Linked DNA regions of Homo sapiens: region 2 is linked to region 1. Evidence: fine-mapped expression QTL. A gene starts in region 1. The other region holds a variant in brackets. All regions are shown on one strand. Distances are between the middles of the regions. Region 1 holds the start of TRPV3 (transient receptor potential cation channel subfamily V member 3). Region 2 overlaps TRPV3 (transient receptor potential cation channel subfamily V member 3).

Region 1 (5,373 bases):
CACCTACTGAAGGACATTTTGGTTGCTTCCAAGTTTTGGCAATTATAAGTAAAGTTGCTATAAATATCTATGGGCAATTTTTGTGTGGGCATAAGTTTTCAGCTTCTTTGAATAAACACCAAAGAGTGTGATTGCTGGATTGAATGGTAAGAGTATGTTTAGTTTTGTAAGAAACCACCAAAGTGTCTTTCAAAGTGGCTGCACCGTTTTACATTCCCACCAGTGATGGCCGAGAGTTCCTGTTGCTCCATGTCCTCACCAGCATTTGCTGGTGCTGTCAACATTTTGGATTTGGGCCATTCTAAAGAGTATGAAGTGGTCATTTTATCTTTTATCTTTTTTTCTGTTTCTCTCTGTGTGTGTGTGTGTGTTTAATTTAAACTTAATAGCATTGACCAATGTGTTGTATGCATTTACACTATAGCATGTTATATTTTTGTTCTGATCATATTCCTTTTCACTTTTCCATTCTTTTTCTTTTTTCTTTCTTTCTTTTTTTTTTTTTTTTTTGGAAACGGAGTCTCGCTCTGTTGCCCAGGCTGTACAGTGGTGCAGTCTCGGCTCACTGCAACCTCTGCCTCCTAGGTTCAAGCAATTCTCCTGCCTCAGCCTCCCGAATAGCTGGGACTACAGTGTGCAGCACCTCACCCCGCTAATTTTGTATTTTTAGTAGAGACGGGGTTTCACCATGTTGTGGCCTCTTCCCTCCTTCCAAGTCCAGGCAGATGCTCCCTCTTTCCCGAACTCATCCCCTACACCCCATCACAGGGACTTCCTCCCGCCTTGGGGGTCTCAGCCCATTTTGTCCTGATGACCCACATGGTGGGTCATGGTTCCTGCCTGAGCCTGTGTCCCCTGTGGCCCACGAGGGTGGACACGGCCTTCTCCAGTTCTGAATCCCTCGTTGTCCACCTGCGCCCTTGCCACGGCCTCTCCCGTGGGCTCTCACCATGTGCTGGGTTAAATGGGGTTGAATATAGACCATCTAAGGGGCTGAAGCTGCTGCTTCTGTGTGTTTGGGGTGGGATTAGGATGGGCTCGGGCTTCCTAAGTAGTGACTGTGACTCCACTGGGTGACCTGGCTCCTGCTGCCTCTCATAGCAGAGCGGGGGTCCCCTTCTTCCTTGCTGGGCACAGGGCACACCTCTGGGTGGGAGACAGGGGCCTTTTTCACCAGCTCCCACCTGCCCTCTGAGAAAAGTTATGAACACGAGCAAAATGGAAGCACTGACATTTGGCAGCAGCTTCCTCCCCAGGCGTCTGAGCCGCCAGAGGCAAACAGGGAGGGCGCGGGGCTGGGTCGGGAGAGGGTGAGTAAGCTAGTGGCCGGAGGCCGTGCTCAACCCCAGATCGGGCTTTTCCGGTCGAGTTTCAGGCACAGTCATGAGATTTCAGATTGTGAGTGGGAACTTCAGGACCCCCTGACTTCAACGGCAGAAGCGGTCTCCTGCTTCACCCACACCCTCAAGTCTGGTCTGCCCCTTACCGGCCATAGGTCCTGCTCTCCCGTGGCCTAGAAGCCTCACCTGCCTCCTGCCTCCTCCCCAGGCCAGGCAGGTTGTGATGATGAGGGATTGAGAGGCTCACAGCTGGGGATTTCCCTGCCCATCAGGCGCCAGCTGCGGCCGCGTCAGCAGAGACTTCCTGCTCTGTCCCAGCTGTGTCTTGTCCACATCTCGCCCCGGGGAGCAGGTGTGCAGTTCCTGAGTGACGCGAGACACACACGGCCATCCTGACTCACTCCACCCACTTCACAGCTGCAGCCTGGGCCAGGAGAGAGGGCACCGATTCCTTCTATGACGCCCTGGCCTTGGAGAAGGGCAACCTGGGCAGTTGCTGGGAGAATACATTGAGATGACAAAAGCAATCATAGCTAAGAGCTGACATTGTTTATTGAGTTCTTGCCGTGCCCTGGGCCTTGTTCTGGCCCTTTCTACTTGTACTTGTTGAAGCCCCACGATAACCTTGCAAAGTGGGTTTATGAAGCACGTTTCACAGATGAGGAGACTGAGGCTCGGAGAAATGACCTGCTAAGGTCATTCAGCCAGGAAGGGGTGAGGCTGACACTAAGGGCCATGATGCGTGACTGCTGGTGGACAGCATTAAATGGGGACTTCCGTCCCCGAGAGACCTGATCCCAGGAACCGACTTTTGAGAACAAGTGCCGAGTCTTGGGGCTGGCCACCCTGAGGTCAACCAGGCTAGGCCTGGGCTGCGGTCTTCCCTCCCAGGGGACAGAGCAGAGCGCTTGACTCTTCACTAGGCCCTCCCACCTCTGTGATCTCTTTGGCTCTTCACGGCTCCCTTGGAAAGTAGATGTTATCATTCCCATTTCCTAGTTGGAAAAATAGGCCTGAGATGGGCAGTCCCTGCCCAGCATGGAATGCCAGAGAGGGAGGAGTTGGACCCACAACTTCGATCTTGGCACCTGCGGCCTCCCCTGCCTTTTCTCCGGTGGGGATGAGGCTGCTGTGTGGGTGTGGGGGTGACTCACACGGGCCACGTGGGTGGGCGGGTGCTGCAGCTGTGGCTGGTGGGCGTGGCCTGCCTGGCGCCGAGGGCAGGTGGCTCAGCCAGTTCTGCCTCTGACGCCTCATTCCAGCCATCCCTCTGCCTGCAATGAGAGCTTCCCGCCGCCTCAGCCACAGTCCCACCCGGGGGCCTTGGGCCCCAGACATGCGGTGATCTCAGGGCAAGGGTTGCCACGACCACCCAGAACCTCACCAGGTGAGTCTTCTGTGCACAAGGCAGCTGGTGATCTCCAAGGCCCCTGGGGAGCCCAGAGCGTGGCCCTCAGAGGTCCTCTGGGCCATGTCTGCCCTTGGCCAATAGGCCTTGGGAGGAGGGTTGGAAGGAGCTTGGGCCCCAGCCAGGGGCCCACTCTTGGCTGTAGGGAGGCACTCTTGGCTGCACTCTTGGCTGTAGGGATGTGTGAGAATATAGGTCCTTACAGACTCAGGAACATTCCCCTGAGGTTTGGGAATCCTGGGGAGGGACATCTCAATCTCACCACTGCTGGGGGCAGAGGAGAGGCTCCTGCCTCCCGAGGCTGACCCAGGGAGGTGGCTTTCTGGGGCAGGATTGTGATGGGAGTTCAGGATGGGAGGAGGTGGCCCCACCGTGGGAGACAGACGGGGCCCAGGCATCTCACAGGTGCTGAGTCAGCAGCTGTGGCTCCGCGGCCTGGTCTGTCGCCCGGGAAAGGCCATTTCAATCAGTGTCAGGGATTGGGAGAGAGAGGGAGGGCCAGGGCAACAAGAGAGTCCAGCAGGTGAGAACGTGGGGTTTACGGGGTGACTCAGGGAGCTAATGATAGCTGCTGCGGCCCTAGTCCAGAGTTCCCTGAGCCTCTCCTGCCCCAGAGGCCCAGGGCAGGCCACATTCTCGGGCCCAGAGAAGAGAGAGAGCAACCAGCTCTCAGGGCCACAGAGTCCTTGGGGACCATTCAGCCCACTTCTCAGAAAGGAAACCAGAGGCCCTGGGAGGGGCAAGAGACGTGCCCTTCTTCTGTCTCCTTCACGCTCGGTGCATCCCAGCCTTTTAGTCCACCAAAGGCCACGTGGGGATGGGGAAAGCCATAGAGGCTGCCCATCCTCATCAGGCCGTGACTGGACACGGGAGGGCCGGGTGCCCAGGAGTCCCTCTCTGTGGGCTACTCCACCTGCCTGGCCTCAAGGTTGCCTACGCTCCAGGGCCAAAGCTCTCCCTCGCCGATGCCTCCTCCATCCTGAGCCTGCTCCCTTTGAGTTGGAGGGCGGGGGACTCTCTCCAGCCTGATGACACCTGGCTCCGGAAACTTCCTCCAGGAAGCTTTCCTATTGGGGTAGGATCACCAGTGGCCCCAGCTCCACCCCACCCAGCTGGGTTCTTCTTACAGAAATCCGTCTTCCTGCCCCCACCTATGTGTCGCCAGGTGAGTCCCCTGAGGATGATTCAAGCTGAGAGTGGCACCCCCTGACCACACAGTCACCACCTGTCCACACAGCCCTTTCCCCGCCCATGTCATCCCTCTGTGGCCAGCTGGCCCCCTTCCCCGTCCCTATGGCCCCTGCAGCAGCCTCCTCCTGGCCCCTGGCTTCTGGTCTCCCCCACCCCCCAACGCAGCCCGCGCTCTCCTATGTAACCCAGAGCCTCTGCACCCAACTCCCAGCTGCCCCCAGGGGTCAGCCATAGCTCCTTTTTTATGTTTAATAAAAACTTTATTTTTTTTTTTTTTCATTTTTTTTGAGACGGAGTCTCGCTCTGTCGCCCAGGCTGGAGTGCAGTGGCACAATCTCGGCTCAATCCAACCTCTGCCTCCTGGATTCAAGTGATTCTCCTGCCTCAGCCTCCCGACTAGCTGGGACTACAGGCATGTACCACCATGCCCGGCTAATTTTTTGTATTTTAGTAGAGACGGGGTTTCACCATGTTGCCCAGGCTGGTCTTGAACTCCTGAGCTCAGGCAATCTGCCCACCTTGGCCTCCCAAAGTGCTGGGATTACAGGTGTGAGCCACTGTGCCTGCCTGAAGCCACAGCTCTTATGCGGTGTTCGAGGACTATACAGGGCCCAGCCTGCCCGCATGGCTTTCGCTGGCAGGGTCCCCATGAGCTCCCCAGGTTCTCTGGCCACAGCAGCTCCCCCCACTCCTGCCACTCCTGACCCTCCCAGGCTCTGTCCTCTGCCCGGCTTGTCCTTCCTCCACACAGCAGCCTGTACGGTCTATCCTGGTCTTGTTGGAAGATGTATCAGTCCCCCTTCCCCAATCCCCACACCCCTCGGAGCTCAGCACGGTGCCCAGCCCACATTGAGCATCAGTAAAGCAGGTCTGGACTGGGGGGTCGGCCTCCTCTGCCTGGGGCAAGGGGACTCAGCTGCTCCCTGCAGGTGAGAGGGGAATCTAATGGACAGGCAGCCATAAGCTGGTTACACACAGCTTTGGGTGGGCGGGGGAGATGATCGGTGTGTTGGCTGCAGAGACCACCTGGACACTGAGGAATCCAAAACACCTGAGGAGCTTAAGGCTGTGTTACTAGGAGCATAACATCTAGAGCAAAGGAGGTGATAATCTTGCTCTGTGGAGGTCAAAACTCTTGGAGAGCTGCTCATCACAAAATCGGAGAGGGACCTCAGGAAAGCAGAGCTAGTGCTTAGGAGTCCGCCTGGGACTGGTCAGCTGGAGAGGGTGTCATGAGAGAGGACAGGGGCATGGTGGTCTCTACCGGGACACCCTGCTGGACTCTCCACTAGTTCAGGGGTCCACCTGGGGACTGGTTGGCTGGGGAGGGTGTCATGAGAGAGGACAGGGGCATGGTGGTCTCTACTGGGACACCCTGCTGGGCTCTCCTAGGACCATAGCATTTGGGGGTGCTAGAGCAGGGAGCTGGGGAAG
Region 2 (5,373 bases), 32 kb after region 1:
ACTGAGGCCCAGAGAGACCAGGAGATTGGGCGGGGTCCCCCAGTTGTCCTTCACGCTTCCCAGGGAACTGAATATGTCTTCAGTGCTTAGCCTGGGCTAAGCCCCAGGTGCCGAGTCCCAAGGGCAGACCCTTGCTGGGAGGAAAGTTGGAGAATTCGGAGACTCAGGCCCTGCACAGGGTCTCTGTCTGTAAATATAGAACTAGCTGGGTGTTTCTGCTGTGAGGGCTGCAGGAAACGGGAGGAGGATAAGCTCTCCCTGCCTGCTGGGCTTCGGTTTCCCATGCGTCACGTGGGGCACAGAGCCTCGGCTTTATTTAACGGTGCTGTGAGGCCATGTTGAGTGCCTGGATATGGATGGGTTCCGGAAAGGCTATTGCAATGGAGTGTGAGGGTTGTTAGCACGGATTGGATGATATTCTTCGTTGTAGAGTTCTGGGTTTCCATCAAGGGTGAGGAGAGTTGGGGTCAGGGAGCTGCTCTTCCTTCTCTTGCCCTGTACAGAGATCAGGTTTCATGCTGGTCTCTGGCCCGGCTTGAGTGTTTCACCTGGGTTTTGGTCCCTCTAGAGTTGGTGCCAGCCCTGTCCTCCTTGCTTCCTATACTGACCACCCCTCTTCTTTCCCTGCAGGCCATCCCGCACCCCTTGGCCCTGACGCACAAGATGGGGTGGCTGCAGCTCCTAGGGAGGATGTTTGTGCTCATCTGGGCCATGTGCATCTCTGTGAAAGAGGTAAGTGGGCCACCCGGCCCTTCCAGACCGCCCCGCGAGGCAGGCAGGTGACAGCCTCCATCCCTCTCTGCTCTGCCATTACTGCTGGGGGGTTCTGGGGAGGCGTTTCCTTCCCAAGCCTTACCTTTCTGAGTTATAACATGGGAAAAAATGGATAAGGCTGGCCTATCCTACCTACTTCATCCATCTACTTCTCTATCCATCTGCCCAACTATCCGCCATTTATCTACCTTCCCAGCCACTCAGTGTCCCTTGTCCTCTTCCACCCCCATCCACCCATCCGATCACCTGCCCTCTTTCATGGACCCAGCCACTCATTCATCCATTCACATGTCCACTCATCCTTACCGACCATCCTTCTATCCTTTATCCAACCATCTTTCCATCTCTCCATCTGTCCATCCGTCCATCCATCCATCCATCCATCCATCCTTCCATCCATCCAATGAATCAACACATATAATCTGAGCACCTTCTATATATGTGTGGCCCTGGAGGAGGTGACAGGGTTGGGACGAGTTTGCCCTCTTTGAATTCACAGCCTGGTTGGGGACATAGCATAGGCATAAATATCAAGACTTTATGATAGACCGAAAAAGACCCTAAGCTGGGTTCAGATCAGTGTTCAGAGGAAGGGAGGTGACTTTTATCTGGGGACAGGGAATGGTAGAGATGCTTGAAGGCAGAGATGGCACTTACTCTGGTGGGGTAGGATTGGGCACGAGGACGATGAGGACAAGGTCATTACAGGGTGGATATGGGGAACAGCATGAGCAAAGGCTCGGAGGCTGGAACGCTAGGCTGGATGTGGGGAATGGAAGGCGGCTGTAGTGGTAGTACCGCTTTGCAGGTTCTGGGGTGAGGATGGGGTAAGGAGTGAGGGAGGTGAGAAGATTTGAGGGAGCGTTCACCTTCACCGTGGAGGTGCCTACGCCCCCCAGGCACAGGTCCCCTTTCAGATCCGCCACCTGGACTCTAGCTGGGCCTTTGTGCATTCAACCCTCACTGAGTCTTGGTCCTGGGGAAGCACCCTCTGCTCAGCTCCCCTGCTGAGGGCCATGAAGAGGGTGCACTGTTTCTTTCCTTCCTGGCCTTAGGGCATTGCCATCTTCCTGCTGAGACCCTCGGATCTGCAGTCCATCCTCTCGGATGCCTGGTTCCACTTTGTCTTGTAAGTAGGTCTGGCCCCTTGGTTATCGCCTCACAGGCAGGGTTGACGTCCTGTATGGTGGCTGCCGTGTCCGCCTCTTGAACAAATATCCTACTGTGCCACGGTGTCCCAGTCACTCTGCCATGGTTACACGCCAGGGGTCTCCTCTCTTCCTCCTAGTAGGAGACACGTAAATGCCCATGGAGAAGGTCAGAAAACTTCAGGGCTGTGGGGCCCAGTGGCTCACGCCTGTAATTCCAGCACTCTGGGAGGCTGAGATGGTGGTGATGGCCAACTCTACCCATCACAGAGCCCCACGTGGAAGGCAGCATGGAGTGGAGAAGGCGGCAACAGGCTTAGCAGTCCTGTTTACGTTGTTGTTTTTTTTTTTTAGTTGAGGTGGAGTTTTACTCTTGT[T/C]GCCCAGGCTGGAGTGCAGTGGCGTGACCTCGGCTCACTGCAACCTCCACCTCCCAGGTTCAAGCGATTCTCCTGCCTCAGCCTCCTGAGTAGCTGGGATTACAGACGTGCACCATCACACCTGGCTCCTTTTTGTATTTTTAGTAGAGACAGGGTTTCGCCATGTTGGTCAGGCTGGTCTTGAACTCCTGACCTCAAGTGATCTGCCCACCTCAGCCTTGCAGAGTGCTGGGATTCCAGGTGTGAGCTCCTGCGCCGGCCTCTTCTGCTTCTTATTTGTTTTGTTAGTGTGGAGGGAGACATTCTTCATTTCAGTCTAAAATGCAGTTGATGAATTAGATGGTTTTTCTTACAATCGTGCCTGTGTTGTGACTTTGGTTAGCTATTTTATAATTTTGGAAACTGTCTGATGTTATAAGACAGTGTTTTTATCCAGATGTCTGCATAATGGATGTTATGCAGATGTCTGCATGTGACTGTGTAGGAGTAGATATTGATTTTGTATGTTTGCGATATATTATACTTAAAAACATTTTAACTGTGGGCCGGGCACGATGGGTCATGCTTGTAATCCCAGCACTTTGGTGGGCCAAGGTGGGCCTATCATCTGAGGTCAGGAGTTTGAGACCAGTCTGGTGAAATCCCCTCTCTCTACAAAAAATACAAAAATTAGCCTTGTGTGTGGTGGCATGCACCTGTAATCCCAGCTACTCTGGAGGCTGAGGCAGGAGAATTGCTTGAACCAGGGAGGCGGAGGCTGCAGTGAGCCGAGATCATGCCACTGTACTCCAGCCTGGGCGACAGAGTGAGACTACATCTCAAAAAAAAAAAAAAAATTAATTGTGGTAAAATACACATAGCATAAAAGTTAGCATTGCACCCATTTTTTAAGCGTAGAAATCAATACTGTGAAGTACATTCATGTTGTTGGGCAATCAGTCTTTAGAACTGTTTTCGTCCTGTAAAACTCAAACTCCATACCCCTTAAACAACAGCCCCTATTCCTCTCCTTTCCCGGCCCCCTGTAACCACCATTCTTCCATCTTTCTCTGTGAATTGGACTATTTTAGGTACAGTCATATAGTGGAGTCACCTATCTTATTTCACTTAGCATACATCATACTTTAAAAAGATTTAATGCTGGGCGCGTTGGCTCACGCCTGTAATCCCAGCACTTTGGGAGGCCGAGGTGGGTGGATCACCTGAGGTCAGAAGTTCGAGACCAGCCTGGCCAACATGGTGAAACCCCATCTCTACTAAAAATACAAAAATGAGCCTGGTGTGGTGGCGGGTGCCTGTAATCCCAGCTACTAGGGAGGCTGAGGCAGGAGAATCACTTGAGCCTGGGAGGCGGAGGTTGCAGTGAGCAGAGTTCATGCCACTGTACTCCAGCCTAGGTGACAGAGCAAGACCCTGTCTCTGCCCCCCTGACCCCCCCAAAAAACACCACGATTTAAAAAGTAGGGTTTGGGGGACTTTTGCTATGATTGGCTTTTAAGTATAGATATTGGCAGTTTTTGTCATTTTGGTTAAAAATACAATCATTTACCACATCTTTGGTCTACTCCAGTAGTTCTCAAATCGATGCAGGAGTCAGAAATTATGTGGGTGATTTAGATTATTTTTCTTTTCTTTTTTTTTTTTTTTTTGTAGAGACAAGGTCTCACTATGTCACTCAGGCTGGTCCTGAACTCCTGGCCTGAAGCGTTTCTCCTATCTCAGCCCCCCAAAGTGTTGGGATTACAGGCGAAAGCCACTACACCAGGCCCGTGTGGGTAATTTAAAAAATATATGGCCTCCCGGGCAGTACCCTAGAATCTTCTGCGGCCCTGTGGATGTGTGTTTTTTCTTTTTTTAAAGTCCCCACCAGCTGCAATCAGCTTACCACAGGCTGTGAGTGGCATCTGGTGATGTCTCTACAGGCTGAATTCTATGGTAGCCAAATGGATCTGAGGCAGCGTGATTCTGGTCTCTTCAGCATCCGTCACCGGGGTGACTGTTCAGGGGGTTTAAGGGAGGTTTGGGGGATTTGCATATCTTTGCCCTGATGCTGAGAAGTAAGTAAGGCCCGTGTCTCCTGTGTCTCCTGAACAGTTTTATCCAAGCTGTGCTTGTGATACTGTCTGTCTTCTTGTACTTGTTTGCCTACAAAGAGTACCTCGCCTGCCTCGTGCTGGCCATGGCCCTGGGCTGGGCGAACATGCTCTACTATACGCGGGGTTTCCAGTCCATGGGCATGTACAGCGTCATGATCCAGAAGGTGCGTTGAGAGCTGCGCCGGCGGGAGGGCCCTCGGAGGATGGCCATTTTTCAGATGGGGAAACTGAGATCTGGAGAGGAAGAGGGGTTTACCAAGGGGCAGGTCACTGCTCTTTCTCCCAAATGCCATGCACTCCCTTTGCTTTCGGCCAGGCTTTAAGTGTCAAGACCTTAAATCCCCCAGGCTTGTGGGGTGCTGGGGAGGGGTACAGTTTGTGGAGGAATGTTCTCACCCCTGGGCAGTGGCGTGCTGGTAAACATTTAACGACTGTTCTGTGTGTGTGTGTGTGTATGTGTGTGTGTGTAGGTGGAATATGTATATTCCATATATATACACAAAAGACTTATCATACATTTTACTATATAAACGATGTGTATCACACAATTTGCAAATAATGAAAATATACCATGCAGTTTATTGTAAATTCCACATAGCCAGTTGAGTCTCAGAATAATTTGTTGCTTTTTTTTTTTTTTTTTGGAGACCAAGTCTTGCTCTGCTGCCCAGGCCAGAGTAAAGTGGTGCGATCTCGGCTCCCTGCAACCTCTGCCTCCTGGGTTCAAGCAGTTCTCCTGCCTCAGCCTCCAGAGTAGCTGGGATCACAGGCACGCACCACCATGTTGGCTAATTTTTGTATTTTTAGTAGAGACAGGGTTTCAGCATGTTGGCCAGGATTGTCTTGAACTCCTGACCTCAGGTGATCCACCTGCCTCGGCCTCCCAAAGTGCTGGGATTACAGGCATGAACCACCGCGCCAGGCCTATTTGTTGCTTTTTATTGAATTCTAGTTTTTGTTGTCAACTTTTGGTTGCAA

The links. PIP is the estimated chance that this variant, and not a neighbour inherited with it, causes the effect.
Region 2: its variant is the best candidate, but not a certain one, in a credible set for the expression of TRPV3 in testis (GTEx, PIP 0.74).

What each region holds. Positions count from the first base shown.
Region 1 is chr17:3,555,030-3,560,402 of GRCh38, reverse strand. It overlaps TRPV3 (transient receptor potential cation channel subfamily V member 3), which reads left to right and starts at 2,591. Exons shown (of 18, transcript NM_145068.4): 1 at 2,591-2,727. RefSeq lists enhancers at 1,083-1,142, 1,213-1,272, 760-1,574, 1,483-1,712, 1,743-1,792 and 2 more and a silencer at 3,573-3,632.
Region 2 is chr17:3,523,384-3,528,756 of GRCh38, reverse strand. It overlaps TRPV3 (transient receptor potential cation channel subfamily V member 3), which reads left to right. Exons shown (of 18, transcript NM_145068.4): 11 at 631-732; 12 at 1,830-1,903; 13 at 4,394-4,559. Among named protein-coding and RNA genes, the nearest start is that of TRPV3, 32 kb to the left of the region's middle. RefSeq lists enhancers at 232-1,152, 4,043-4,542. The variant T/C (reference allele first, on the strand shown) is at 2,300.